Regions from separate parts of the Homo sapiens genome. Here all the other regions are linked to region 2. The links come from fine-mapping of genetic effects on gene expression. A gene starts in region 2. Each other region holds a variant in brackets. All regions are shown on one strand. Distances are between the middles of the regions.

Evidence for each region. PIP is the estimated chance that this variant, and not a neighbour inherited with it, causes the effect. A credible set is the group of variants that fine-mapping cannot tell apart.
Region 1: its variant is the best candidate, but not a certain one, in a credible set for the expression of NAPB in whole blood (INTERVAL, PIP 0.87).
Region 3: its variant is the best candidate, but not a certain one, in a credible set for the expression of NAPB in whole blood (TOPMed, PIP 0.59).

The regions. Positions count from the first base shown.
Region 1 is chr20:23,378,832-23,389,170 of GRCh38, forward strand. It overlaps NAPB (NSF attachment protein beta), which reads right to left. Exons shown (of 11, transcript NM_022080.3): 8 at 2,382-2,486; 9 at 1,036-1,104; 10 at 614-664. It also overlaps the pseudogene RNA5SP479. Among named protein-coding and RNA genes, the nearest start is that of GZF1, 22 kb to the left of the region's middle. The variant TGAAAGAAGA/T (reference allele first, on the strand shown) is at 6,880.
Region 2 is chr20:23,416,872-23,427,210 of GRCh38, forward strand. NAPB (NSF attachment protein beta) reads right to left here and starts at 4,617. Exons shown (of 11, transcript NM_022080.3): 1 at 4,434-4,617. The coding sequence starts at 4,531. RefSeq lists silencers at 3,606-3,835, 4,466-4,555 and enhancers at 4,806-4,995, 8,913-9,620.
Region 3 is chr20:23,391,347-23,401,685 of GRCh38, forward strand. It overlaps NAPB (NSF attachment protein beta), which reads right to left. Exons shown (of 11, transcript NM_022080.3): 3 at 5,726-5,842; 4 at 3,793-3,839; 5 at 3,576-3,653. Among named protein-coding and RNA genes, the nearest start is that of NAPB, 25 kb to the right of the region's middle. RefSeq lists an enhancer at 375-914. The variant C/G (reference allele first, on the strand shown) is at 2,726.

The DNA of each region.
Region 1 (10,339 bases), 38 kb before region 2:
TTTTTTGAGACAGAGTCTCGCTCTGTCACCAGGCTGGAGTGCAGTGGTGCAATCTCAGCTCACTGCAACCTCTGCCTCCCGGGTTCAAGCGATTCTCCTGCCTCAGCCTCCCGAGTAGCTGGGACTACAGGCGTGTGCCAGCATGCCTGGCTAATTTTTATATTTTTAGTAGAGACGGGGTTTCACCATGTTGGCGAGGATGGTCTCAATTTCCTGACTCATGATCTGCCTGCCTCGGCCTCCGAAAGTGCCAGGATTACAGGTGTGAGACGCCGTGCCTGGCCTTAACTAATTTTACTTTATACTTATTTATGGGTCAGATTATTTTCAAAAGAAAAAATTAAAACAGCAAATTATAAGAATATAAATGGAATATTTGCTCCTGAACTAGTCTCACAGCTAAATTAGTTTTGAGTGTAAGTCGAATCTCAGCATGGCTAATGGAACTGTTTAATTTGTGTGATATATAAAAGGTGACGTTTGGAAAATACAACTTAAGGTATGCTGGAGTCATGTTCAAATAAATGTTTAGAATTCACATAATGAAAAGGAAAAGAAGTTTCTTTAACTTAAATCTTCAAATAATGTACCATGTCCCAAAAGCATAACTTACTGCTTCAGTGTAAGCTTCACTGTTCTGTTCTTCATGAGCTTCTAGGAGTTTCTGGTAGCATAAAAATATTTTAAAAAACAGTTCTGTAAGATGAAGTCCCATTTCTAAATATATACTTTAAGTATAATACCAATGTTGCCAAATATTGCACAAAACTGAGGAAATACTCATATACAAGTCAAGAGCCAAGTTAGGGATCTAGCTTCTGTAGTAACATTTCTCAGGTGCCTATTTCAGAACACAACTACATGTTTCTGACCTTAATTGCATTTGAACACCTATAATACGAAAGCAGGAAAGTACCAGGGCCCCTCAGTTAGCAGACTTTATAGATTAAAACTTCACTTCATACCCAATCCCACTTAGGTGTTGTCACCTAACAGAACAAAAGCATTTTTCTTCAAAGTTCTAATATTACTTACTTTCAATAATTTACATTCTCTTGAATCAGTAAATGCTGGAAACATTTCCTCATATTTCTCAAGAGCAAGCTGAGAGAGAAAAACCACTCATCAATTTCAGACTTACTAAACAAACAAAGCTTTCAACATTCTATCAGCTTCAAATAAGATCTACCTATATCCTATTAAGTGTTGAAAAAGTATGTAGTTAAACTCAAAAGCAGAATCAACATAGAAAATCTTTCTATTCTGAATTTTCCATTTCAATAAAGAATAATTTCTAAACTACTTTTTTCTGAGTTAGGCTGCTGCTGAGAAGACATTGTAAATGAAAATGAATTCTTAAACACTCACAGACCAGGTATCTGTATCCATCCATTAAATGGAGACGTTCTTAATACAGTCCAGATTCCAAATAAATTACATTTAGCTTCCTGCTCGAAGCTGACAGAAAGAACAGTTTCTCTTACTGGCTTTAGTTCTGCTCTTCCAACTCCAGACACTGGCCATGCCAAGGCTGCCTGTCTTTTTGCCTCTTGGCTCCCAGTGCTCACTGTGCTTTTCAACTTCTTCCCAGTCCTCACTCCAACACCATTTCTGAGCTTGCCTGTTGTTTTGGTTGTTTTTTAAATGGATATTATCCTACTCTTATTGTCTCCTCCCTTAGTTCCTTAATTTCTTTCTTTTTTTTTTTTGAGACGGACTCTTACTCTGTCACCCAGGCTGGAGTGCAGTGGTGCGATCTCAGCTCACTGCAACCTCTGCCTCACAGGTTCAAGTGATTCTCCTGCCTCAGCCTCTCAAGTAGCTGGACTTACAGGCACCCGCCACCACACCCAGCTAATTTTTTTATATTTTTAGTAGAAACGGGGTTTCACCATTTTGACCAGGCTGGTCTCAAACTCCTGACCTCAGGTGCTCCACCCCACTTGGCCTCCCAAAATGCTGGGTTTACAGATGTGAGCCACCACGCCTGGCCCCCTTAATTTCTTTAAAGCAAAACTACTGAAAAAAAAATGGTGGCTACCAGTGAACATATACATATATTTAAGCCTATAGCACTAAATATTCCCAGGCAGTGCCCCCCATTCAAGTACCAGGCTCTACACTGCTTAGCTTCTGAGATCAGACGAGATTGGGTGTGTTCAGGGTGGTATGGCTATAAACTATCAGGTAACTTTTGAGAACAGCTTTGACAGCTGTTAAAAGATTACAACTGGGACACATACCACAGAATAATACTTATTTTTAATGTACCCGTTTATTCTTGGTACTAACATCAAAATGAAATGATACCAAGAACAAGAGAGAATGTGTACGTATTCTTATGGGTGAAATCAGTCAATCAATGCTGAAGAACTCCTTACCTTGGCATTCAACTCGTCTACTATGAAGTGGCAGAGGGCAGCTTTGAAGAAGTAATCCTTTGCACTGTATTTCAACAAAGGATTATCCATTGTGTTTGCCCCAACCTAGGCACAGAACGCAGAGTTAAATTTAAAAGATTTACCCTCTTATATCAGGCAAAGTCATTCTCATCTGTTGTCCTTTAGAAAATAATTATGTATCTTATGTTTGTTTAGCTATGAAATATATTATTTTATCCGAATACCATATAGTAGAAATTTTACTAGACAAGACCATTAAATACATGAAGTCTTAACCAGTTAAAAATAGCTCAGAAGAATTCTGCTTCCAATAAGATGGAGTAAACATCCTTTCCCCTAATCCTCCCACTAAGCACTACTAAAAGCCCAGGTCATTTTCTAAAAAACAAACGTTTCCCAAGGGAAAACGTGGTAGTGGGTTCCCTCAGTTTTCTTTTCCCTTCCTATATCCATGGCATGAAACTGAAGAACCAGCAACCCAGAAATGCCAGTATGCACAGATAAAAAGAGAAGAGACAAAAGCCTGCTCTCTCTGGCCAAAGGACTAGAAAAGGGGCAGCCCAGCAAGAGAGAAAACACTTAGACAATAACTGCTCTACTCCAGCCAAATATCACAGAAAAACTGAGGCCCTAACTCCATTTACATCATCAAAGGCTGAAGAAGGAGTCCTAAAGTCCATTCTTGAAAGACTGTAAGAAGCACCCCAATACCTCTGCTTAGGAGCTTCAGAGAAGGCCAAATAGGGAGCTGAGGCTTGATCCCCACCCAACCCCCTGACACTAAGGCAGTGCAGACCACACTGGGAGCCTGCATCCTGTCTCTGTCAAGCAGGAAAGAGGTTCCCCTTCTTTCTCCAGCTGGTGTGCTGTCAGAAGAGGTCTAGTGGAGGGTGAAGACTCTCACCATACCAAGAACAAACCAGCACTGTGCTGGCAGAAACAGATAAGGAGAGGGGATGCCACTTCTGCCCAGGGCTGACTAGGCCCCTCAGGTGTCAACAGAGACCTGGTGGAAAGCTGACACTTCTACCTCCACCTGGCAGTAATGAGGTAACATCCCCACCTTCCCCAGCCAGAGGAATGTCAAAGAAGGCCAACTGAAAAGAGAACGTTTAAACAAGACCCAGTCTCATAACCTAATGTGCAAATGCCCTGTTTTCAATCAGAAATGACTTGTAATACCAAAAACACAGGAAGATCTCAAGCTAAATGAAAAAAGACCATTAACAGATGATGGTTCCAGATGACGGAAATGTCCAAAATATCCCACGAAGATTTTAAAGAAGCCCTCATAAAAATGCTCCAAAAAGCAAGTACAATAACACCTGAAGCTAATGGAAAAATGGAAAGCATCCACAAAGAAAAAGGAAGCCACAGGAAAAAAGATATAAAGTAAAAACAAATAAAAATTTCAGAACTGAAAAAAAAAAACAGTACCATACATAAAAAGTGGGTGGGCTCAACAGCAGGATGAAAGGGACAGAGGAAAGAAGCACTAAATGGAAGACAACAACAGGAACAACAGAGAGAAGACAAACTGACAAAAAGGAACAGAGCATCAAGGACCCATGGGATAATAAAACAGTCTCACTTTTGTGGCATCTGTGTTCTAGAAGGGGAGGAGAAAGAGAAAAGGGCTGGCTGGGCATGGTGGCTCACGCCTGTAATCCCAGCACTGTGGGAGGCCAAGGCAGGCGAACCACTTGAGGTCAAGAGTTCAAGACCAGCCTGGTCAACATGGCGAAACCTTGTCTGTACTAAAAATACAAAAATTAGCCAGGTGTGGTGGCAAGCACCTGTAGTCCCAGCTACTTGGGAGGCTGAGACAGGAGAATTGCTTGAACCTGGGAGGCAAAGGTTGCAGTGAGACAAGATTGCGCCATTAAACTGGCACGCCTGGGCGACAGAGCAAGACTCGGTCTCAAAAAAAAAAAAAAAAAAAAAAAGGAAGCTGAAAAAGTACTTGAAGAAATAACTGCTAAATGATTCTCAAATTTGACAAGAAACATAAACCTACAGATTCTGTAAGTTTAGGGAAACTCAAATAGCTTAAAACCAAATATATCTATCCAAGCCACATTATAATTAAACTTTTGAAACTAAAAGAAAAAAATTATGAAAGTGTCTAGAGAATAACACCTTTTTTATAGGGGAAAACAAGTTGAATGACAGCAGACTTCTTATCAAAAACAATGGAGGCCGACTAGGCGTTGTGGCTCATGCCTGTAATCCCAGCACTTTGGGAGGCTGAGGTGGGTGGATCACTTGATGTCAGAAGTTTGTAAAACCATGGAAGCCATAAAGTGCACATTTTTGAAACTAAAGGAAAAGAACAATCAACTTAGAATTATACTCCCAGGAAAACTATGTTTCAGAAATGAAGGCAAAATCAAAACGTTTCCAGATAGGGGAAAACTAAGAAAATTTGTTGTCAGCAGACCTACCCTAAAAAAATGACAAAAGGAGGTTCTCTAAATAGAAAGGAAACAATAATCTTGGAACATCCAGAAGAAAGAACATGGTAAGCAAAAATATGGGTAAATATAACAGGCTTTCTTTCTTGAGTTTTCTAAATTATGTTTGATGGCTGAAACAAAAATTCTAACATTGACTCATGTGGTTCTAAATGTATGCAGAGGAAACATTAAGACAACTATATATTGAATAGGGGGAGTAAAAGAACAGAAAGGGAGGTAAGATTTCTATATTTCACCAGAACTTATAAAATGATGACACCAACCTACAGCATTTAACCACAAAAGCTACACAAAGATATATACCATTGATTCTCCAACAACACTGGTTTAAACTGTGTGAATCCACTTATATACGGATTTTTTTCAACCAAATGTGGATTGAAAATACAGTATTCTTAGGAATTCAACACCCATATAAATGAAAGGCAGACTTTTTTATATGTGAGTTCCACAGGGCCGACTGTGGGACTTGACTATGCACAGATTTTGATATATGAGAGAGGTCCTGGAACTAATCCCCTGTAGACACTGAGGAATAACTGTACTTAGAAACACTGGAAAATCAAGTAGGCTGGGTGTGGTGGCTCACACCTATAATCCTGGCACTTTGGGGGACCGAGGTGGGCAGATGACTTGAGCTCAGGAGCTCAAGACCAGCCTGGGCAACATGGCAAAACCCCATCGCTACAAAAAGACTTGAGCTCAGGAGTTCAAGACCAGCCTGGACAACATGGCAAAACCCCATCGCTACAAAAAATAGCCAGGTGTGGTGGTGCATGTCTGTAGTCTCAGCTATTCTGGAGGCTAAGGCTGAGGTGGGAGGACTGCTTGAGGTTGGGAGGTGGAGGCTGCAGTGAGCCAGGGTCGCACCATTTCCCTCCAGCCTGGGTGACAGAGTGAGACCCAGTCTCAAAAAAAAAGAAAGAAAGAAAAAAAAGAAAAGCAACCCATAAAAAGGTTGGAAAAAGAAAACAGAGAAACAAAAAGCAAAGAATAGAAAGCAAAAACTAAAATGGCAGAAAGCAGAATTAAGCCCTAACATATAAATAACTGCATTAAATGTGAATGACCTAAATACACCAATTGAAAAACAAAGATTGGCACAGTGGATTAAAAAACAGGATCCAGGCTGGCTGTGGTGGATCATGCCTGCAATCCCAGCACTTTGGGAGGCCAAGGCGGGTGTATCACCGAGGTCAGGAGTATGAAACCAGCCTGGCCAACATGGTGAAATCCTGTCTCTACTAAAAATACAAAAATTAGCCGGGCATGCTGGCACGCACCTGTAATCTCAGCTACTCGGGAGGCTGAGGCAGGAGAATTACTTGAATCCAAGAGGTAGAGGTTGCAGTGAGCCAAAATCACTCCACTGCGCTCCAGTGTAGGAGACAGAGCAAGACTCTGTCTCAAAACAAACAAACAAAAAAAAACAAGATCCAACTACAAGAAACTCACTTCAGTTATAATGATATAGACAGGCTGAAAGAAAAAGAATGGACAAACATATCATATAAACATTAATCAAAAGAAACCAGGCAGGGCTATAAAGTGGATAAAGTAGACTTGAGCCAAGAAAATTACCAGAGACAGAGAAGGACATTATGTAATGATAAAAGGGTCTCTCCAGCAAGAATAGCAATCCAGAGCTGCAAAGTATGTGACGCAAAGACTGACACAATGAAAGAAGAGTCAGACAAATCCACAACTAAAGTTGGAGATTTTAACACCCAACTCTCAACAATGGATAGAATTAGAAAGAAAATCAAAGGCCAATCGCAGTGGCTCACACCTGTAATCCTGGCACTTTGGGAGGACAAGGCAGGCAGATCATTTGAGGCCAGGAATTCGAGACCAGCCTAGCCAACATGGCACACACCTGTAATCCCAGCTACTCGGGAGGCTGAGGCACGAAAATAGTTTGAACCTGGGAGGTGGAGGGTTGCAGTGAGCTGAGATCAAGTCACTGCACTCCAGCCTGGGTGACAGAGCAAGACTCTGTC[TGAAAGAAGA/T]GAAAGAAGAGAAAGAAGAGAAAGAGAGAGAGAGAAAGAGAGAAAGAGAGAGAGAGAGAGAGAGAAAGAGAAAGAAAGAAAGATCAGCAAGTATATTAAAGAACTCGACAATGCCATCATCCAACAGGAGCTAATCAACATTTATAAACATCACCCAATAACAGCATAATCATAAAACATATGCCAAGATAGACCATATCTAGGCCATAAAACAAAACAAATTTATAAGAATTGAAATCACGCAAAAATATGTTATCTAACCACAAAGGAATTAAAAATAAGTCAACAATAGAAAGATTACAGAAAAATCTCTGCTAGACACTTGGAAATTAAATAAAACACTACTAAATAATCCATGGGTCACTGAAGTCTCAAGGGAAATCAATAAATCCAACTAACTGAATAAAAATAAAAGTATAATGATATAATAAAATTGGGAAGTAGCCAAATGTATGAAAGGGTAACTGATAACACTAAAAATGCATACACAACAAAGATGAAAATCAGCAAGCTAAACTTCCATGTCAAGCACCCAGAAAAAGAGCAAAACAAATCCAAAGAAAACAAAATGGAGGAAATAACAATAAAAACAGAAATCAGTGAAAATAAAAACAAAAAAAGAGAAATAATTGAATTCTACCAAACATTTAAAGAGGAATTCACACCAATCCTTTACAAACTCTTCCAAAACACAGAAGAGGAAGAAGACATCCTAATGCATTCTGAGACCAGAATTACCTTGATTCCAAAACCAGACAAAGACACCACAAGAAAACTAACGATCAATATCCTTTATGAACATAGACATAAAATCCTCAACAAAATGTTAGCAAACCAATTCTGGCACTTACAAAAAGTAAAGTCAGCCACAAGGGTGGTCAACATCTATGTCACTGGACCCCAATAAAAACTCAGAACACCACGTTCAGGGGAGCTTCCTTGGTTGGCAGCAGTCTACGCTTATTTTCACTTATTACTGTGGGGGGAAGTAAGTGCTGTTTACATAACTCCACTGAGAGCCGACAACTGAAAGCTCTTCCTGGAAGTCTCCTAGACCTTGACCTATGAGTCTCTCCTTTGAGTTTAATCTGTACCCGTTTGCTGTAATAAACCATAATTGTGAGTATAACAGCTTTCAGTGGGTTCTGTAAGTTTGTCTAACAAATTATTAATAAACTTGAGGGTGTTCTTGGGAAACCCCTCAAAGTTTGCAATGACCAAGTAGAATTTATTCCAGGAATGTAAGGTTGGTTCAACATATGAAAATCAATCAATGTAATCTACAATATTAAGCTGATTAGGACAAAAACCATACGCTTATCTCAATAGATGCAGAAAAAAGTTTGACAAAGGACAAAAACCATGTTTATCTCAATAGATGCAGAAAAAAGTCTGACAAATAAAGGACAAAAATCATATGTTTATCTCAATAGACACAGGAAAATGCCTGACAAAATCCAATACCCTTTGATGATAAAAACACTCAACAAACTAGGAAGAGAGGGGAACTGCCTCAAACTGATAAAAGCATTTACCAAAACCCCACTACTGATATCTACCGCTATCACACTTAATATGAAAGACCGAAAGTTTTCCTTACAAGATCAGGAACAAGACAAGGATGTCTGCTCTTGTCACTTCTATTCAACACTGCACTGGAGATTCTAGCCAGGGCAACCGAGAAAATGAAGTAAAACACATTCATATTGCAGAGGAAGAAGTAAAACTATTGTTATTTGCAGATAACATGATTTTGGATATAGAAAACCTAAGAAATCCACACAAAAAAACCTATTAGAGCTAATAAGTTTGGCATGGTTGCAGGACAAAAAATTGATATGCAAAATTCAACTGTATTTCTATACACTAGCAGTTAACAATCTTAAAAGGAAATTAAGAAAATAATTCAATTTGTAGTAGCGTCAAAAAAAAAATAAAATACTTTGGAGTATATTTCACCCAAGAAATACAAAACTTACACACCAAAAACTACAAAACATTGTTGAGCAAAATGAAAGAAGATCCAAATAAATATAAAAGGAACCTGTATTCATCGACTGTCAGACTTAGTATTGTTAAGATGGCAATACTCTCTGTGATGACTGATTTTATGTGTCACCTTGAGTGGGCTACAGGGTGCCCAGATATTTGGTGTTATTCTGAGTGTGTCTGTGGGGTGTTTCTGAATGAGATTAACGTTTGCATCAGTAGGATGAATAAGCAGATTGCCCTCCCCAATGTGGGTGGGCCTCATCCAATCTACTGAAAACCTGAATAAAATAAAAGGTTAAAAGGAAGAATTCATTCTCAATGCCTGTCTTAGAGCCAGGACACTGGTATTCTCCTGATTCAGACTTGGACTCAGATTAGAAATTACATCATCAACTCTCCTGGTTCTGAGGCCTTTGGATTTGGACTGGAGCTATACCATTGGCTCTCCTGGGTCTTCAGAATGCAGATCTTAGGCCTTCTCAGCCTATATAATCAAGCGAATCAATTCCCTCCAGTAATTTCTCTCTCTAAACACACATACACACTCACACACACACAAACACACACACATACACCCCTACACCTCTTATTGGTTCTGTTTCTCTAGAAAACCCTAAAACCACTCCAAATTGGTATGCACATTCCATACAATCCCTATCAAAATCCAAGCTGGCTACTTTGCAGAGATTGACAAGCTGATCCTAATATTCGGATGAAAATGCAAGGGATCTGGAATAGCCAAAACAATTCTGAAAAAGAACAAAAAGCTGGAGGACTCACACTTACTGACTTCAAAACTTACTGCAAAGTTACAGATATAAACAGTGTAATACTGGCACAAAGATGGATAAATAGATCAATGGAATAGAGAGCCCAGAAGTAAGCCCTCATATTTCATATGGTGAAATAATTTTCAATAAGGGTCTTAATACCATTCAATAGTTAAAATATAGTTCTATTCAACAATTAGTGCTAGAAAAACTGGATATCCACATATAAAAGAATAAAGTTGGACCCTTACCTCATACTATATACAAAAATTAACTCAAAATGGATAAAAGACCTAAACCTAACAGCCAAAACTATACAATTCCTATAACAAAACAGAAAGGAAAAGCCTCATATCAGATTTAGCGATGATTTCTTCTATATAACAACAAAAGCCAGACAAAGAAAAAATAGACAAACTGGACTTCAAAAATATGAAAGACTTCAGTGAATCAAAGGACATTAATAACAGAGTCCAGAGACAACCCACAGAATGAGAGTAAATACTTGCAAATCACATATCTAATAGGGGATTAATATCCAGAATATATAAAGAACACCTAAAACTCACCACCAAAAAACAAACAGCCAAATTAAAATCCGGAGAAAGTACTGGAATAGACATTTCTCCAAAGATATACAAATAGCCAATAAGCAAATAAAAAGATGCTCAACATCACTAGTCATTAGG
Region 2 (10,339 bases):
TTACAGTCTACAATGCTTAAGAAATATTCACAATTTTCACAAACAACCAACAAATTATAGATTCATAATTATTTCAAGATAACCCAATGGGGCCTTTCATTAAATTTACATTGACATTGCCAAATTTGTAGCTCTTGTGTAAACTCAGACTAAACACTGAAAGGCAAAGGAAGACAGCATTAACCATAAAGAACATCTTTCCACTGGCATTCTTTTTTTTTTTTTTTTTTGAGACGGAGTCTCGCTCGGGGGCCCAGGCTGGAGTGCAGTGGCACAATCTCAGCTCACTACAACCTCCACCTCCAAGGTTCAAGTGATTCTCCTGCCTCAGCCTACCAAGTAGCTGGTATTACAGGCGCCCGCCACCACGCCAGGCTAATTTTTGTATTTTTAGTAGAGACGGGGTTTCATCATGTTGGCTAGGCTGGTCTCAAACTCCTGACCTCAAGTGATCCACCCGCCTCGGCCTCCCAGAGTGCTGGGATTACAGGCGTGAGCCACTGCACCTGGCCTCCACTGTCAGTCTTAAGCACTTTCTTCTATGTGCATTGTGCAGGTTATTCCCAACCGGGTCTCATAGCAACAAGATGGAGGGGATAGTATTATAAGAGGCTTTTCCAATTCAAAACTATCTTAATGTCAGACTCAGGCCGATTTAAAATCATACCAGTAGTTCATTAACATTATAAACTGGAATTTGAAATTAACTACAAAATTCCATAGCTCATCCCTGGCAACAAACTAAAGGACAAGACAACTCCTTTGGAAGTAGTTTTACTAAACGTACTATACTACAAACTTGAGAAAAAGTTTTAATTCCACAACTACAAAAGCACATTACTGCTTAACGGGCAATTAAGCAGAAACACAAACCACCACAACAGTGGTTTCCTGCAATGTTTGCATCCCTTGTCAGCTCTTTTCCTGGGGAGGAAGGTGGGGATGGGAAAGGAATATTGATACCTTACCTATCAAGCAGATAAGGCAGAGGATTTGTGCCTTACACAGAGAAGAAATATTTGACTGACATGTTCTCATAAATACATATGCATATTTTCATCTAATTTTACTGAAAGCAAGAAACAAAAGCTATAGAATACTACTAAGAATACAGTATTGCCACAAAACCACTGTGAGTGGTAAACACTAGAGAACTCATGACAGGCTTTAATCTGCAGATAGAGCATTCAGAATGTCTGTGATGTGAAATATCTGCAATATGCCAAGCAGCTTTTAATGACTGCCACAACCTGAAAACAGATGGCTTATCCTCTTTAAAGCACCAGCTAGTCAGCTCTTAAATATATGAGCTCTGATGATATTCAAGTCAGTATGTGTGTTTTATTAATTTTGTATTACATTAATTCTGGAGTCTGACATAGAGATGGATTACTCTGCGTTTTAAATAAAGGATTACATGCAGACCTTTAGGAATGAAAATGGTGACATTCTATAGCTAAGAAGGCAGGGGCAGGGTGGAATAACATGTATTCCAGTCTAGAAAGGTGATGATACATGCCATCTATAAGGTAGGATTCTAAACATCTAAAATTGATACAGAATCTTAATTGTCCTACTGACACAGGAACACTACGTCTGTTTTCTGGCTTCAGTAATTATACAATATTACTAAACTCCTAAAATTCTAAGTACTCTTCTTCCTGCAAGCTTTCCTGGAGCAAGTATTACTGGAAATAACAGTCTTCAAAGTATAAATCACACTTGCATGGTACATTAATGGTTAAAGCTCTTTCAGATATTTTATTTCATTAAAAGATCAATGAGGCTGGGCGTGCTGGCTCACGTCTGTAATCCCAGCACTTTGGGAGGCCAAGGCAGGTGGATCACGAGGTCAGGCATTCGAGACCAGCCTGGCCAACACAGTGAAACCCCGTCTCTACTAAAAATACAAAAAAAAAAAAAAAATTAGCCGGGCGTGGTGGCGGGTGGCTGTAATCCCAGCTACTCAGGAGACTGAGGCAGGAGAATCGCTTGAACCTGGGAGGCGGAGGTTGCAGTTAGTTGACATCCCGCCACTGCAATCCAGCCCGGGTGACAGTGTGAGACTCCGTCTCAAAAAAAAAAAATCAATGATGCAGTCTACGGCTCTGAAATTCTGGAAAAGTTATCTGTTTGGCCTACTGCTTCTTTGATAAATAACTGGAGCTGATAATTTTGATGAATATGCTAATTAATATCTCATGGTCACTGTCTCCAACATCCATGGTTCCAAATGTTTTATAAACATAACCTCACTGAACTCCCATAAATTTTGAGATATACTATTATTGTCTCCGTTTTATACACTGGAAACTGAAGCACAGAGAGGCTAAGTAACTTGCCCTAGGTCCCAAAGCTAGATAATAAACCAACCTGTTGTACCCAGGTAAGAACTAAGATGCATTAACTTTTGTGTAACTGAGTGTGAATGGTGAAGATTCGTCTTCTTATATGTCCTGTCAATAACATAGGTAGCAACATTTAAAAGGGAGATGTTTCTTTAAAAACAAAGGCTTTTCAAAATCCTTTAAGGATTATAAGCTCAAGATTTGGCCTAGTTTCCTAAAAACATCGAAAACCTCTTTCCCAAAAGGAGTGTTCTCCTGAGACAAGCACCAAGTGCTGTCAAGCTTTTTCCTCTGCCAGTTACAGACTCTCCCACAGGGAAGCACTTCCTGACTTGAAATAATGTTGTAACATTAAAATAACCTCCTGGCATGAGGTACTATGACATTAAATTTTATTAGAGTGAATTTTAAATGTTTTGTGAATCAAAACATTTAAAAGGAGTTAGTGTGGCGCTAGCACTTGATGGTACTGTCATAACTTTTAAATGCAAAACAAAACATAATTCATAGCTATATCTCCTACACATCACATGAGAAATTTAGAAACCAGCTGTGATAAACGTCCTCTGAGAGGTTCCTGAGGACAGGGACCCTTATCTTCTTGCATTTTTGCAGCCTTTATGCATTTCTGCAGTTATGCGTACTGCATGCAACTTGTCCTTAAGCATTTCCTAAAGACGTATCAATAGCGGTAAAGTATTATAATTTATAGCCAAAAGAATGAAGTTGGCAAAACAAGCTAAGAGCCCATTATGTCTGTCTTCTGAAATAGAGTCTGAACTGAATGTGTACAGAAATAAAATCGTGTCTAGTCATGCAATGGGTTAAGTATCTGCTCTTGGTAACAGCAAAGGATCTTTCACTTTCAAAAGAAAACAACGAAACAGGCACACACAAAATTTCTGCCTTTCTCATCCTAAACAGCTGAATCATTCACATATTCAACAGCCCAGAATTCTTCCGGGCTGTCAGTGCGGGCTCTGCTTTTTGAGAGGTTGGAATTTAAAATCCTCCTTAGGAGAGCACGGAAGAATTACAGGAAATTAAAGGGATTCCCAAAGGACGCCTGACTTAAACAGCAGCAGCGTTACCGTTAATCAAACAGGAGGCTCTGGCTATCAATCAATCTCCGGAGAAGGAAAAATACTATGCTGAGAAAATATATTCGTTCATTAGTCAAGTATTTACTAAAGGTGTACTCGGCGCAAGGCCCCTGGAGAGAGGCCAACAAGCACACCAGCTCTGGATCCCTCGCCGGACCGCCCCCTCCCCGGCGGGGCCCACCTGCAGGCGGGACGCCCCCAGGTGCGCGTTCCAGGCGCCGGGGGCGGCCCCCGCACCCACCCCTCCGGCTCCACCCCGGCGCGCCTCACCCGGACCGGTCTCAGGAGCGATACGGGCTTCAGCGTGGCGAAATGCACCAATACGACTCGCTACGCACTGAGAAGGGGGCCCCACGCGCGCCCCGAGCTACCGCGCCCGCGGGCCTCAGGGAGCCGCTGACCTTCTAGGTCGTGGGACCCCCGCACCAACCCGGGCCAGGGCGAGGGGGGCGATCTGGGGTCTCCAGAGGGCGCGTGAGGCTGACAGCCCCCCCCCCAGAGTGTTCTAGGGGCTTCGTGGGGCGCTTGGGGAGCTCTGGGGGTCCTAGGGGTTCTCTGAAAGGCGCGTGGGGGCTGAGGGTCCCTGTGAGACTCTGGGGATTCTAAGGGGGCGTGTTAGGGGATCCGGAGAGCGTGTGGGGGCTGAGGAACCCTGGGGAGTTCTGCCGGCCCTAGGGGGTCTCTAAAGTGCGCGTGGGGGCTGAGAGCCCCTGGGAGGATGCGGGGTTTCCAGGGACCCTGGGGGGGCCTGTGGGGTCTCTGGAGGGCGCGTGCGGACTGAGGGCCCCTGGGCGTCCTGGGGGCTCCAGGGGGCGCTGGGGGACCCTACAGGATTTCTGGAGGGCGCCTGCAGGCTGAGGGCCCCTAGACGTGGTCTGAGGGCCCCAGAGGTTGCGTGGGGGACTCGGGGGGTCAGCCTGAAAGGAAGGGGGCCAAGTACGGAGACCCCCCCCCCCCAGGGCACGCACGGTCTGGCGCTCACCCAAACAGCCCTCGGAGGAAGGAGTGGGAGGCCTTGACTCGCTTCTCGGCCTCCGCCATCAGCTGTACTGCCTCACGCTCCTTCCCCGCGTTGTCCATGTCGCCCGCCGCGGCCGCCACAGCCCCCTCAGCCGGCTCGCTGTGCGCCCAGGCGCCTTAACCCTCCCTCTGGCGGCCGCAGGGACGCAGGCGCAGGCGCGACGCGCGAGGCCTTTCGGGAGCTGTAGTCCGGGTCCTGTCATGGCGGCGGGGATTCGCGAGCCGCCTACTACAGTTCCCAGGAGGCCCCGGGGCGGGGTGTGTGTGAGCCGAGCTTGCGCACCGCTAGCTCCCAGGACGTCGGCGCAGGGGGCGTGACCCCCCCAAAGGGGTCCTGGGCCAAGGTGAACTTTAATTTTGTATGTATGCAGAAATGGAAAAATGATCCGTGGCCTCTAGTAAAGATCACCTCCTCAGTAAGACTCGCATGGCAATGGGATGGATGAAGGAACAGGGGATAACAGATTGGATGGAACCCACACCCTTCATGCAAGTTCTGCAAAAGAGAATCTGGTGTAGCCACCAAAGCATCACATGCTTGATACCGCCCACCAAAAAACGAGCAACAGCTGGCAATAAGAGCCATTTTTATCTCCAAGAGCAAGACGTCCCCAATATAAGTTCAGTTATTTTTAAATCTCCCCAAACTGTAACTTTCTGTTGGTCCTCTCTTCCTTGGTTATAAATGAGTTGCATATATGCAATATATGCATAATCCACTCTTTTGTTGACTGAATTATATTCAATGGATGTGAACCATTGAACTCTTATCCTTTACATAATACTGGCCATAGTGGATGGATCTCCAGGGACAAAATGTTTGCCTGCCAGGAAGACTTCTAATCTCCTAGGAGAAGTATCCATAGATAGATGGGATCCTGTGCCAGAGACTTTCAGGCCTGTCCCAGAGGGAGTTATTTTTGAAGACAATGTCTAGACCATTCAAGCTTGGCAGTGCTAAGGCAGAGATGCTGAAACTAATAAGAAAATCACTGCCAAGTGAGATTTATGACAGTTTCAAACTGTTAATAAATACACTCTGGGCACTGGCATGCAAAATTTTAGAAAATGAAGACTGTCTGTAGAGGGCAAGGCAAGAGGGGCCAAACTCCTAGAAAGAAAGTTGACTAAAGCACATGTCACAGAGTTCATACATTTCAGGACTCCGTAGAGATAGAAAGAAATCTCAGCTCTTCGTGCAGTTTATTTACGATTACTACATGCATTATTCTAACTTTGAAAAGCTGAGCTGTGTGTTTTTGGAGAGAGAAGGAGGCGGGAAATTGGAGGTGACCGTAAATGCAGGGGAGACCAGAGAAAAACTGTAAAAAGTGAACATAAGCATTTGGAAAGCAGAGCAGTCTATGGGGGCTTAATGGAGTGAGGCTAAGTCAAAAGCTCCTAAGTAAATCAGTGTGTTGATTAAATCAGTTGTTCCCTAACGTGGTTCGATGCAGAAGCTCTAATGGATATTTAAGAAATACTGATTCCTAGGCCACTGGGTTTTGGTATCAAGGTCTCTTGCAGCTGGGGTCTAGAAAATGCACATTTTGAAAAGAACTCTCCATCCCTATCCTAAAGCACACAGTTCTAGATTCTCATATCTGTAGTCAGTTGAAAAGGAGCTGGAACAGACTGCCTCCCCGAAGCTAGCACTTGCAATTAAGAGAGACATTTTTGGTGGTTTCTAGTAATTTCCTTCATTCTCTTCTTTGTCACAGGAAATTTGTGGGCACTCCCACCGTTCTGCCAGTCCACACCAAAGTGGGAGAAAACCTTCAAACCTTAATTACTGGGTAGAGCTAGTGTTTTATTCTCCCAAAGGCTGGGGGAGGAAAGGAGGCAGGGCAGAGAGATGAACCTCACAGAATAAGGCCTGACTAGAGAGACAGCTGAGGAATCCTTGAAACAAGAAGGAAAAGGAAAGGAGAAGCACCCCTGGTGTGGATCAGGAGAAGAATAGAAGTCATCTTGGAGAAGAGCCAAAGGACCCACTGCCCACACCTGCGCTGCCCAGGATGGAGCCACTCACCACTGGTGGCTATTTACATTCAAGTTAAATAATATTAAATAAAATGTAAAGTTCCATTTCTTGGCTGTACTAGCCGTATTTCAAGTGCTCAATAGCCACACATAGCCAGTGGCTACTGAAAGAGTTATAAATATAGCATCCTGGTGGATTGACTAAGTTAGACACCTGGTGGATTGACTAAGTTAGATACTTGAGGGCGGTGGCTCACGCCTGTAATCCCAGCACTTTGGGAGGCCAAGGCAAGCGGATCACTTGAGGTGAGTAGTTCAAGACCAACCTGGCCAACACAGTAAAACCCCATCTCTACCAAAAATACAAAATTTACAAAAAATACAAAAATTAGTTAGGTGTCGTGGTGCATGCCTGTAATCCCAGCTACTCAGGAGGCTGAGGCAGGAGAATCACTTGAACCTGAGAGGTGGAACAGAGGTTGCAGTGAGCCGAGATTGCACCATTACACTCCAGCCTGGGCGACAGAGTGAGTGAGACTCTGCTCAAAAAAAAAAAAAAAAGTTAGACACCCAAAAAACGACAGGTGCAAGAAGATTATTTTGACTTTTTCTTTTCTTTTTTGCATACAGAATACACACTGGACACTTTGACCTCTTGTTTCTTTCTTTCTTTTTTTTTTTTTTTTGAGACAGAGTTTCACTCTGTTGCCCAGGCCAGAGTGCAGTGGCTCACTGCAAGTTCCGCCTCCCAGGTTCACGCCATTCTCCTGCCTCAGCCTCCCAAGTAGCTGGGACTACAGGCACCCACCACCACACCCGGCTAATTTTTTGGATTTTTAGTAGAGACGGGGTTTCACTGTGTTAGCCAGCATGGTCTCGATCTCCTGACCTCGTGATCCACCAGCCTCGGCCTCCCAAAGTGCTGGGATTACAGGCGTGAGCCACCGCGCCTGGCCCCAACCTCTTGTTTATTTAAAGGCAAGAGATGAAATTCCCATATGAAAGATGTCCCTCTTATACTAGAACTAAAGCAACATTCTTATCATCAAAGACAGGAAGTTGAGGCTAAGAGAATTCTGTACAAACCCTATTAAACTAACCCTTATCTTCTTAGTCACTTTTCTATCCAATTAACTACCCTAGCCCAAGCCCCTCTGCCTCATCACATTTTCAGTTTACTATTCTTTGTCCAATTCAGTAAATAAGTAACACACTCTAACTGCCTCTTTGGGTTTTCATTTCCTTATGAGGCCTCCCATGCCATGTAAAACTTGTATCAAATACACCTGTGTGCTTTCCTGCTATTAACTTGTCTTATGTAAGTTTAATTTTCAGACTCCACCAGGAGCCTGAGATGCCCCCCTACACTACTATATGGACTGCACAGACAGAGAACAATTTTATCATTCCACAAGTCCTAGTGGATGGCACTAGCCTCTATGTGCTTTGCTTTTCAGAAGTTCTGGACACTTGTAAGAAAAGAAGAAAAAGGCTTCAGGGAGTTTCTGAGAAGGCAGAGCAGGAAAGGAGCGTAGCCTGAACAAGGCAGAGCCAACAGTACTGCTGGCTTTTCCCTGTGAGAAGATGGAGGTGGACACCTGGACACTCAGACTGAATCAGCACATACCCCGAAAGATGATCCATCAAGACAGGGCTGAAGCTACTTGAGAACCCCAATACTAAGAAAGCCAGAGTCAGAAAAGAACAGAATCGATATGGGGAAAGGGTGTAGCCATCTGTGTGTGTTCACAGAAGGGGAGAAAGCACCAGGCAAAGATCCAGTATGGAAAATTATGGGACATCACTGCTGCTTCACTGAAGCAAAGCAAGAAGGCTCACCCACATTAAAGGGGAGGGAAATGAGACGACATCTCCTGATGGGAGGGCCTCTGAGGATTTGCAGATGTTTTCACACCACGACAGCTAGGTTAGAGGGAGTCCGTGCTCACCCTGGTCCACTCTGGTTGCATTGACAAAGTTGGGAAGCTGGAGCCCCTACGCTGGCGTTGGGGGACAGCCTTCAGCTCACATGGCCCTGCATGGCATGGCCCAACGGTCCCTGCCCAGGTCTGCAGTGGCCTTCTCTGATGACATCTCAGCCTTCGTTCTGCCTGAAATGCTAAGCGTGGCTCAGAGTCATCGGACAAGGTCAAACCATCTAAAGCAGAGTGTTCTGCTTCAGAAGGCAGGGAAGGAAGAAGTCCATTTCAGGAGGCTCTTCACCCAAAATCGTTAAAGGAATGCATTAATGAAAATAAATCTTCCATCTGTGTGGATGAGGTTGTGCAATTCTAAGGACAGAATTTAATTGTTCTATTTACAGTGATTCTTTTCATTTTTCTCATAGACTAACAAAACCCAAGAACATTTGAATGGCACATTTCAGAGAAATAATTAAACAGCTTTTGTTAATCTCTAAAAAACTTTTTGAAACAACATCAGTTTAAGTGTTTGTGTGTTATGTGTGTGGGGTGACATTTCACACCCTGTGAAAACTGTTACAAGTTTCCCCAAATGTAACTTTATTAATCTTATTTAACCTTTCCTTAAAAAATTACTCTATAAAATTCAGACCAAAAAGTTAGAAAAGGTAAAATTAAATATACGCAAATATCTGTTACAGAAAACAAAAAATGGTAAATTAAGTTAAAATAAATGCTTATGAGAAAATATATATTATTGTCATTAGTAAGTGCTCTTCTTCTTCTTCTTCTTTTTTTTTTTTTTTTTTTTTTTTTTGAGACAGGGTGTCGCTCTGTTGCCCAGGCTAAAATGCACAATCAGGGGAGGAGCCAAGATGGCCGAATAGGAACAGCTCCGGTCTACAGCTCCCAGCGTGAGCGACGCAGAAGACGGGTGATTTCTGCATTTCCATCTGAGGTACCGGGTTCATCTCACTAGGGAGTGCCAGACAGTGGGCGCAGGCCAGTGTGTGTGCGCACCGTGCGCGAGCCGAAGCAGGGCGAGGCATTGCCTCACCTGGGAAGCACAAGGGGTCAGGGAGTTCCCTTTCCGAGTCAAAGAAAGGGGTGACGGACGCACCTGGAAAATCGGGTCACTCCCACCCGAATATTGCGCTTTTCAGACCGGCTTAAGAAACGGCGCACCACGAGACTATATCCCACACCTGGCTCAGAGGGTCCTACGCCCACGGAATCTCGCTGATTGCTAGCACAGCAGTCTGAGATCAAACTGCAAGGCGGCAACGAGGCTGGGGGAGGGGCGCCCGCCATTGCCCAGGCTTGCTTAGGTAAACAAAGCAGCCGGGAAGCTCGAACTGGGTGGAGCCCACCACAGCTCAAGGAGGCCTGCCTGCCTCTGTAGGCTCCACCTCTGGGGGCAGGGCACAGACAAACAAAAAGACAGCAGTAACCTCTGCAGACTTAAGTGTCCCTGTCTGACAGCTTTGAAGAGAGCAGTGGTTCTCCCAGCACGCAGCTGGAGATCTGAGAACGGGCAGACTGCCTCCTCAAGTGGGTCCCTGACCCCTGACCCCCGAGCAGCCTAACTGGGAGGCACCCCCCAGCAGGGGCACACTGACACCTCACACGGCAGGGTATTCCAACAGACCTGCAGCTGAGGGTCCTGTCTGTTAGAAGGAAAACTAACAACCAGAAAGGACATCTACACCGAAAACCCATCTGTACATCACCATCATCAAAGACCAAAAGTAGATAAAACCACAAAGATGGGGAAAAAACAGAACAGAAAAACTGGAAACTCTAAAACGCAGAGCGCCTCTCCTCCTCCAAAGGAACGCAGTTCCTCACCAGCAACAGAACAAAGCTGGATGGAGAATGATTTTGACGAGCTGAGAGAAGAAGGCGTCAGACGATCAAATTACTCTGAGCTACGGGAGGACATTCAAACCAAAGGCAAAGAAGT
Region 3 (10,339 bases), 26 kb before region 2:
GGAGTCCAAAACTAAGCAAAATGGCTGAGAAGAGTCAGATGATAGTGTGTGCTGCTGTTTTTAGCACAGTTTTGTAAGAGCTGAACTCTGCAAAGAATCAGCTGGTTTGTAGACGGTGGTAGACAGCCTTAGAAATAAAGCTCTCATAAGATTGAAAAAACCTTCTATACCCCAAATAACAAGAGATAAGTATGAGCAGCTCTTTAAACCAGGGCTCTAGCCAAAGTTTTTCTCTAACAGGTCAGACAAGAAATATTTTAGGTTTTGTGCATCTTTGTTGCAACTACTCAGCTCTCTTGTGGTAGCATAAAAGCAGCCATACACAAGATATAAATGAATAAGTGTGGTTGTGTTCCAATAAAACTATATTTATGAACAATGAAATTTCTAATTTCATATAATTTTTACACGTCGCAAAATGCTTTTTTCTCTCAAGGATTAAAAACCGTAAAAACCATTTTTAGCATGCAAACATACAGAAGCAGGTGGTGGGTTTGCAGGATGCTTGAATGACAAAGGTTTCACAGCAAATGCAAATGAGGGAGCTAGCAGTCTCTGAAAATCAGATTAAAGGTGCTGCCTTTCTGCCCAAGCCCATTAGTTAAGTGGCTTCAAGGCAGCTCCTAGTGAGTTAGAAGAGATTTGCAGGGACAAGAAAACAAATAAAACAAAACAGGCCATGGAACTATAGGCAGCTTTCATTTGTGATGCACTTTGTCTTCATTCACTTAGCATCTGTTACTGAGCACCCACTTTGTAAATAGGCATCATGCTAGGCTCAGGGCTGTGATGGTGAGCGGAACAGTCATGGGCCCTGCCCTCACAGAGCCCACATTTTAGAGGGAGGAGATGTACCTTCATCAGGTAATCTCACATGTGTGTACATGACAGCTCTGACAGGTGTTCCAAAGAAATATTTTCTTCCAGAGAAATATTTTCTTCCAGACTATTTCTGTGTGTGACTAAGTATTTGCAAAAAGAGAACCATAGTACACCTGTTCTTTTATAGCTGCATTTTAAAATTCAGTATTCCGTGAAGGTCAGGCATGATGGTCCATGACTGTAATCTCAGCATTTGGGAGGCCAAGATGGGAGGACTGCTTGAGTCCAGGAGTTTGAGACCAGCCTGGGCAACATGAAAAGACCTCATTTGTATGAAAAATTAAAAAATTAGCCGGGCATGGTGGCACATGCCTGTAGTCTCAGCTACTTGGAAGGCTGAGGTGGGAGGATCGCTTGAGCCCAGGAGGCTGAGGCTACAGTGAGCTGTGTTCATGCCACTCCAACCTGTCCAGCCTGTGGAACAGAATGAGGCACACGCCACCATTCCTGGATAGTTTTTTTTTTTATATTTTTAGTAGAGATGGGGATTTCTCATGTTGCCCAGGCTGGTCTTGAACTCCTGGGCTCAAGTGATCCTCCTGCCTTGGCCTCCCAAAGTGGTAGGATTATAGGCATCAGCCACTGTACCTGGCCTTTTTTTTTTCAAGAGAAAAAAAGAGTATGTCACATTTCATTTTATCTGCTCTCAAGTTTATGGAGACCCATGTGTTGGAGACCATGCCTGGGCAGCAGAAATGACACAGCACTGCAGGCTCCTGCCCCAGAGTGCCCTTCTGACCACTGTGAAAGAGGAAGCTGGAACAGGAGCCTCTGCTGGCAAAGATGCTCTGCGCACAGTGCTCATCCCCGCAAGACTCACTCAAACCTAAATAAAGATACTGTGGCCATCCCAGACACCCTGACCAAATAAATACCCCAGCCACACCAGATCCATCTCCCTCCCATTCCATCATCAATTCCACACCAGGGAACAAAGGAGGTTCAGATCCAGCTCCATCACCTGCCTCCAGGATCCACAGATAACCTTCCAAAGAGAAGGCTCACACACACGTCAATGCACAGGGTGGCCCTGACTTGATCAAGATCAGGGAGTATCCTCAGAAAAGTATGGCAATTATAAAAAAAAAAGGTCAAATAATAAATTTTATGTAACAAATATGAGCAAATTTTGTGCTGAATAACCAACAGGTGGAGGTCACACAGTCAAAAGAGTGAACGTTAACAATGCCAGTCCAATTTCAGTAACGCCTAGCAGATCCTTCCCCAGACCAGGAAGACTCCATTTGGTATGGTGGAGGTAGGGGTAGCATTTGTTTATTTAGCAAATATTTAGACCCCACTAGGTCCCAGAGTTCTGGGCTCTTGGGACACATCAGCAAAGCAGAGACAAAGCTCTCTGCTGACACGTGTGCCCAATCTGGCGGAGGGAGAGAGACAACCAAAATGAGAATGATGAGCAAGCATATGAGAGGGCATATTGTAAGGAGACATCTGCTCAGCAATACAAGAAGTTAAGTGAGGTGTGTGGGGATCTACTATGTCTTCCTGGGGGGCTAAATTAACTAGGGGGTCATAATAGTTAATCATGGAAATAGGTAATAAATGAGCAAAAATGGAAGGGCACGGGGAAGTTAGCCATGTGGACTTGAAAGATGTGAGGAGTCAGCCACGTGGACATCTGGGGAAGAGCTTTGCAGACAGAGGAAATCGTGGATACAAAGGTCCTGAGGCAGGAGCGCTCATCTGGCATGTGTGCGGAACAGCAAGGAGGCCAGGATGGCCATGCAGGGTATGCAAGAGGAGGAGAATAACAGAAAAGAGGAGAGGCCAGGCCACACAGATGCATGGGGAGTGTGGGGCTGGGAGGAAGCAATTCAGTGGA[C/G]CCATGAAGGCTCTGCACAGCTCCAGCTGTTCCTCTTAGTGAAAGGGGTCTAATGACTGTCAGCAGTAGAGAAACAGAGTATGATGCAATGCTTAGAAGGCTCACTCTGGCTACTCTGTGGCATGGGGATGTGGGGTTGGCAAGGTAGGGAGAGCAAAAGCAGGGAGACCGGTTTGAAGGATCCTGCAGCGATCAAGTGTGAGCTGAGAGACAAGGTAGTGAGTTGTGCCAAGACTTGGGAGCAGGAAGGACACCGCTCACAAAAATTGCTCACAGGTTGTAGAGAAAGAGAAAAGGCAAGGAAGCCTGTAGTTTAGCGGGGAACACTGGGTTGGGGACATCTGAGAATCCAGTCCCAGACATGTTGGGTTAGAGATGACTGCTGGACAAAGTGGAGAGGTCAGCAGGCAGGTGGATACAGTAATCTAGCATTTGGAGAGAGGTCTAGGCTGCAGTCAGATTTCTGAGTCACTGGCACACAGATACTTAAAGCTGTGATGCTGACTGAGTGTACAGAGGTGACCTCTTACACTTTCTTCACTGGGCCTTAGAGTACTAAGCAATACAGCTGAAGGTTCTTTTGGCAATGCTAATGTTCTGACATGAATCAGAGAGAGTGGAAACAACAGGTGATCTCTGTAAATCTTAATCAGCTCTCATGTCTTAGATGTCCACTCCAGGAAAACAGCCCATCTACTTAGCCAGCTAGTAGACTTTGCCAGAAAGTCTCCAGGCAAGGCCATCTATGACCACTCTACACCTACGATCACTCTCAGACTGAGGAGAGGAGAGTTCTTTGAGTCAGCTTATCTGCCTGCTTCACATCTGAGGAAGTGTGCCCACTGCTTACCTTCTCAATGTCTACAAGTTCAGTCTCATAGATCTCTGCAATAGTAATGTGGTGCTTGGCTGCAATTGTAAACCTTCCCTAGGGGAAAAAACAAGAAACAGTCACACACCGATTTTACCTATCTGAATGCCAGTTTGGGAACATAAAAAAGAAAGATAGAACTCTAAGCCATCTCAAGACTCCACCCCACAGCCACTCAAGCAATGCAATGTCTTACCATGTCTGTGTAAATGTCGATGGCTGCATTTAAGCAGTTGATAGCCTCTGAAGCGTAGGCATTTAAGAAAAACAATGAAAAATCCATTCAGTCAAAGAGGGTTCAGGTGAGGCTGTCTTCCTGGCTGTTATCAGAACGTTAATGAGGTATAATTTTGGAGTGGAGGGTGGGCAGGTTAATGAGAAGCAAACAAAAATCATGCACAAGTCCAGATTCATCAGCATGGCTTTGTTCCCAGCAGCTATAGTATAATTTAGGGAACTGTAGCTGGAGTAACATTGGCTTAGTTACTCTTAACCTTAAAGTGAGGACTCCATCCAGGCAAAAGACTGTATTATAAAGAAAATAAAACCATAGAGGTTGTCACCAACACTGATAAATTGTATCTGCTAAAATATGAATGCAAACATATTCCTCATTAATACCATGCATATATATTAATTTTGGAACATGGCACCACATCACAAGAACAATCACCTCAATAGATTCTACTCTCCATGCAGCCAAAAGCAAAAGCACTTTGAAATGCCTATTCAAACAACCCTTAAGCAAAGTCAACATTCTGTATAATGTTCAAAGATGCTAAATTGTAGCATACTAACAAAATGAAGAAACAAATCTAATAAATAATAATGCTAATAAATTTTACTAATTTTCTAAACAAGTGAGCCAAAAAATTTTCCCTATCATAAAATGATGGTGTTTATGATGCTGGCATACAGTGACAGCTCCAAGTTTATTACGTTTGGTTTAAAGAGGCAGCAAAGTAGAAAGGCCTGACTACAAAATTAGAAAGGTAAGCAGATGAACAAAAATTAAAACAATTTCCCTCTAAACTACATAAAAAATGTGGATCCCTGTTACACCTTTTAAAATACAGAATATAAAGAGAAAAATAATCTATCAATAATCCCGCTCAAATCCGTTGTTAGTACTCAGATGTACTTTCCTTTTGCGTTTATTAGACACATTTCTATATGCACAAACTTTTTTCTGAAAATGAGATTATACAACATTCAGTCTCATGTGCTTCTTTAATTGACATGTAAACATTTACCAGGTCACTGAAGATTCTCTGAAACCAGGGATTTTAATGCCTGCACCATATTCTAAAGTACTGATGCATTACAATGTTACCACTCTAACAGCTTATTTAACCTGTGTCCAGTTTGTCACTTTGGGAAATAAACTGTGATTAACCCTTATACCAAAGGTATTGAAGATACCCTATTTCTTTATGACATATTTATTCTCAAAATTTGGGATCTGTGTGTTAAACAAAATGGACTGCTAAAAGAAAAAGGAAAAACACAAAATTTCCGCTGTGCACGCGTGTGGAAGGTAAGAAATTAATACTTTTAATTACACTCTTCTAACTAAAAAGAAATAATCTTTGCAAAATTTTACCACATTAAATATCCAATTGCATTCTTTCCTCAAAACAAATACTTTGAAAAACTTTTTAAAAAACCAAATGAATACTGTATGAATCAGACTTTTTAACGATTGAATATTACAATCTCCCATTAACTGGATCTGAAAACTCCTTAGGTATTTAGGAGTAAGGGAACATAAGAGTTTCCTTTTATGAACAATATACATTTTCACAAAATTAAGATATAAGAAGTCTTAGATAAAATTAAAGGTAATTTCCAAAAAATTCTCTAAAATGCAATATAAATAAGAGTTTAATTAAATGATGCTATAAAGTAAACAGCCAGTATAAATTTAACATAATTTCTCCTCATAAAAGCCCCCAAATGATTAAAAAAGAAAAATCCCTAAGGTTATCAAAATTCTCTATTATTCCAAAATACAAAAATTCCTTTTTACCAGGACTTGAAAGCACACCAACACTGACCTTAACGTTGAGGGAAGTACTGACTGGTTAGTTACACACAGAGATAGCATGCTACATGCCTGGCTGTCTTACCTTGGGGATCTGCCTTTTTGTAAGCATTTCCAGCATCCACAAAGCTGGTAGCAGAGTCATGTTTGCTCTGAAGCTGCATGTGGAGCTTGGCTGCCTGACAAAATGCGTTTCCTGCAGCTGAAGAAGACACTACAATTAAACACAGAGGAACAAGTCCCCCCCAGAGCAGCCCATGCTGTAAGCACTGGACCTCCCTAGAAAAATTATATTCCACTGAAAAGAAGCATTCTAGTCAGAAGCAAAAATCCATGTGGTCCAGTGCACCTCGGGCAAATATAAAAATAACCAGAATCAAGTCAAACAGCGATGAAAGCTTCTCCACCTCAGCTCCAGCAGACTTTCCAAGTGTCCCTGGGCACTAAGCCACTATTCCCTGATCTGTCCATTCAATACCAGTAGCCAAGTCTTGGGCTACTCAATTCAATTCCACTAACATATAATAAACATCAGCTAAGGGCTTCAAGCCACAAATGATTAAAGAAAGGTAAAACACTGAGCGCAAAGATATTTGCTCACTTTTCTATCTTAGTGTCTCCTACACTTAGCTGTCGGTGTGGAAGAAACTGCTAATGAAGGCTTCATGGATAAAGTAAGTTTCCTAAAAAGTGAAAATCAGGCCCACAATTTTGAAATCCAGAAAAGTCTAAAAATCCAAATTTTTTTCTTTACTTTATAGCAAAATCTGACTGAAATTTATATGAGGTTTAATCTATTTTACCCCATTTAGTGTGAGAATTTACAAATTTCCCTGCAGAATCACTGATGGATCTGGTTGTGGGGTACCACCCAGGTCTCCAACTGGGACACAGTACAACATATAAGGTACATGAACTAATCTTTTTCAGAAAAGGTTTTGGATCAGGGACCATGGATTCTGGAGTGCTGGAAAAGAAAGAGGGAAGGAATCGCTAGCAGAGGAGTCACAGGAACACAGAAGAAATGCTTGAAGGTAAGAAAGGGCTGGAAGTGGAGGCCAGTGACAAGCCTGCCCTGACTGGAGGAGGCCAGTGGAAATCAAGGCTGAGGCTGCATCAGGCCACTTCCCAGAGGGTTTAAACATCAACATGCGAAACTTCCTGAGTTCAGAGAAAGCAACACAGCAGAGTGCCTCTGAAAAATGAGTCACATTGGGGAAGTCAGTACAGCAGAAATGGAGAGGAAAGAATCTGATCTACCAGGAAAAGCATGGTTAAGAATATCACAAAGCCTTTAGGTTTCTAAAAAAATTATCATAAAGCAGTACTCACTGCTGATATTAAACATTTGCTATAAATTTTTTTTGTGAGGAAAAAAAATCCAATTCTTTTCTTTTTTTCAAGACAGGGTCTCAATCTGTCACCCAGGCTGCAGTGCAGTGGCGTGATCACAGCTCACTGCAACCTCCACCTCCCAGGATCAAGAGATCCTCCTGCCTCAGCCTCCTGAGTAGCTGCATGTGCCACCACACCTGGCTATTTTTTATTTTTAATTCTTTAAAAAATTTTTTTGGCTGGGTTTGGTGGCTCAAGCCTATAATCCCAGCACTTTGGGAGGCCAAGGCAGGTGGATTACCTGAGGTCAGGAGTTCGAGACCAGCCTGGCCTGAACATAGCGAAACCCTGTCTCTACTAAAAATACAAAAAATTAGCTGGGCATTGTGGCAGGTGCCTATAATCCCAGCTACTTGGGAGGCTGAGGTAGGACAATTGCTTGAATCCGGGAGGCGGAGGTTGCAGTGAGCCGAGACTGTGTCACTGCACTCCAGCCTGGGTGACAGAGCAAGACTCTTGTCTCAAAAAAAAAATTTTTTTTTTTTTTTTTTTTTTTTGTAGAGACAGGTGCTATGTTGCCCAGGCTGGTTTTGAACTTCTGGGCTCAAGCAATCCTCCAGCCTCGGCCTCCCAAAGTGCTGGGATTACAGATGATTATACCTGGCCGTAAACATCCAATTCTGCTAAAGCTTCAGCTGCATCTCTTGTTCCAACTCCCTCTCCCCAGAGGAAATGCACAGTTCTCATGTGGGTTTCTGAACCTGAGGGCAAAGGGACAGTACAAACTCTGGAGCCCACCTGCCCAGGTTCAATTCTTGCTCTGTACCACAGTTTCTGATTAAAAAGAGTACCCAGGCATCTTTGAAAAATATGTAACCACCAGCATGACATGGGTAGTGCTATGATCTGAATGGCAGTATCCCCCCAAAATTTGTATTACTGGAGCCTGATATCCAATTTGACAGTATTAAGAGGTGGGGCCTTTGGGGGAGTGATAAAGTCATGAGAGCACCACCCTCATAAATGGGATGAGTGCCCTTATAAAAGAGGTTGAAGAGAACTGCCTTGTTCCTTCCACCACGTGAGGACATAGCAAGAAGGCGCCATCGTGGAAGGTGAGAACAGTCCTCACCAAATACGGGATCTGCTGGCACCTTGATCTTAAACGACCCAGCCTCCAGAACTCTGAACAATACGTTCATTTTCTTTATAAATTACACTAAGGTATTTTGTTATAGCCGCAGGAAGAAACCAAGGCACTGAACAATCAGAGTACATGCCAGCCTCAGGGCTAGAGCTGGAACTGAAGAAGCCCTGCTGGCCCCTTGTGAATCATGAGAGGCTGGTGGGTATCCAGAAGGGGCAAAGGCCACTGCCAGGACAGTGGCCAGGCACCTGGGGTACTTGGGGCAGCACTTAACCATGAAGTGGCAACTCAGGAACATATCTGGCTAAGTGGGAGCTTTAATGGGCTCTGCCTCAGAAGAACGTAGTAATAGCTTGGACTTCGCAAGTAAAGTGCTTAGAAGGGCCTGACTCACATTACACACGGTGGCCACTTTCATTATTACATGCAAATCTAGCCTTAGATCATATCTGTGGTTTGGCATATTGAAATGCCATCTTTTTTTTACAATCTACATCCTTGCTCTCCTGCTGGCATTTCATTTTTGATAACTTATCTATGTTTCCTGTCTCAGAATCAGTCATGGGCCATCCTTTTCTTGCTCAGTAATACCACAACACCCAGGCTCTTCTGGGCTACCTCCATTTCTCCAGACAACAGTAAGCGCTTTAATTTTACATTTTCACATTCCCACATTCCAAAACGAGTTGCTGGCTTACTTTTTCACTCTGACTATTCATTCCAATCACTGACAGCAAATGCTAGCTCGGTCTATCTAAACTTGGAAGTGTTGGGCCGGGCACAGTGGCTCATGCCTGTAATCCCAGCACTTAGGGTGGATCAGGCACTCCTCGTGGTCAGGAGTTCAAGACCAGCCTGGCCAACATGGAGAAACCCCATCTCTACTAAAAATACAAAATTAGCTGGGCGTGGTGGCACATGCCTGTAATCCCAGCTACTCCGGAGGCTGAGGCAGGAGAATCGCTTAAACTCGGGAGGCGGAGGTTGCAGTGAGCTGAGATCGCACCACTGCATTCTAGCCTGGACAACAGAGCAAGACTCCATTCTCGGAGGTGGAGGGGGAACTTGGAACTGTCTTTAAAGGATCATATATTAAATTAAATGGTCTCTGGGAAGCCACACAACTTAGGCTAAATTTCCTCACCCGCAAAACTGGTATAATACCTGTGAGGATGATCTCTCAAAAGCTGAGTATCAAACAAATTAGCTTAGTCATTATGAAAGAACTTTTAAAACTATAAAGAGATGCAATGCTGTTATGATCATCACCAATGCAACATGGATAGAACTTCAAGGAGTCTAATATTCATCCACTCAACAAATATACTGAGCACCTATGACTTTGCAGGTAATAATCCAGGGCCTGGAGATACAGCAGAGATAAAAACACACAAACATGGCCTTCCAAGGTTTACTTTCTAATGAGAATCACCATATAATAAAAACATGTAAATATAAATGAATAAAACATTATGTAATTTATTTTTGCTAGATGGTGATAACAGTGTTGGAGAAAGAAAAAAAAAAAAGTTTCCAGGAAGGACAAGATTGTTATTTTTAAAAGGGGTGGCCAGAGAAGACCTCACCAATAAGTTGACATGTGAAGAGGGAGCTGAAGGAAGCAGGGACCCAGCAACATTCTGTTTGGGGAAAGAGTAGGGAGACAGAGGGAACAGTACATGCAAAGGCTCTGAAGTGGGAGCTGGGTGCACAAGGAAGGGGATAGTCTTTGAGGGCCACTACAGAGACGTCAGCTCTTATTTGGAATGATATGACCTTACTTAACTTGTGTTACGTTACTTCATTAACACATTTATGCCTAGTGTTCCTTCACTGGAACGCTAGGCACGTGGGAGTTATTTATATCCTATCCTACTGCTCAAGGTCATCGCCAAGGTCTGATTTCCAAAATTCAAAAAATTGCAACCTCAGACATAAATGGAAACAGACTGGAAAAGTGCAGCAGTATGACAATGTCAGGAGGCTAGAGCATCACCCCAGGCAACAGATGACGCGGGGTGCACATACAAAGCCTCCTTAGTTACATACATGATCAGTGGCCTCTCTGAAATGGAATTTCCAAAGGTTAGAATACCTCATCACCAGATACAATAAGTAATAAGTGGTCTCAGCCGGGCACAGTGGTTCATGCCTATAATCCCAGCACTTTGGGAGGCCGAGGTGGGTGGATCGCCTGAGCTCAGGAGTTCCAGACCA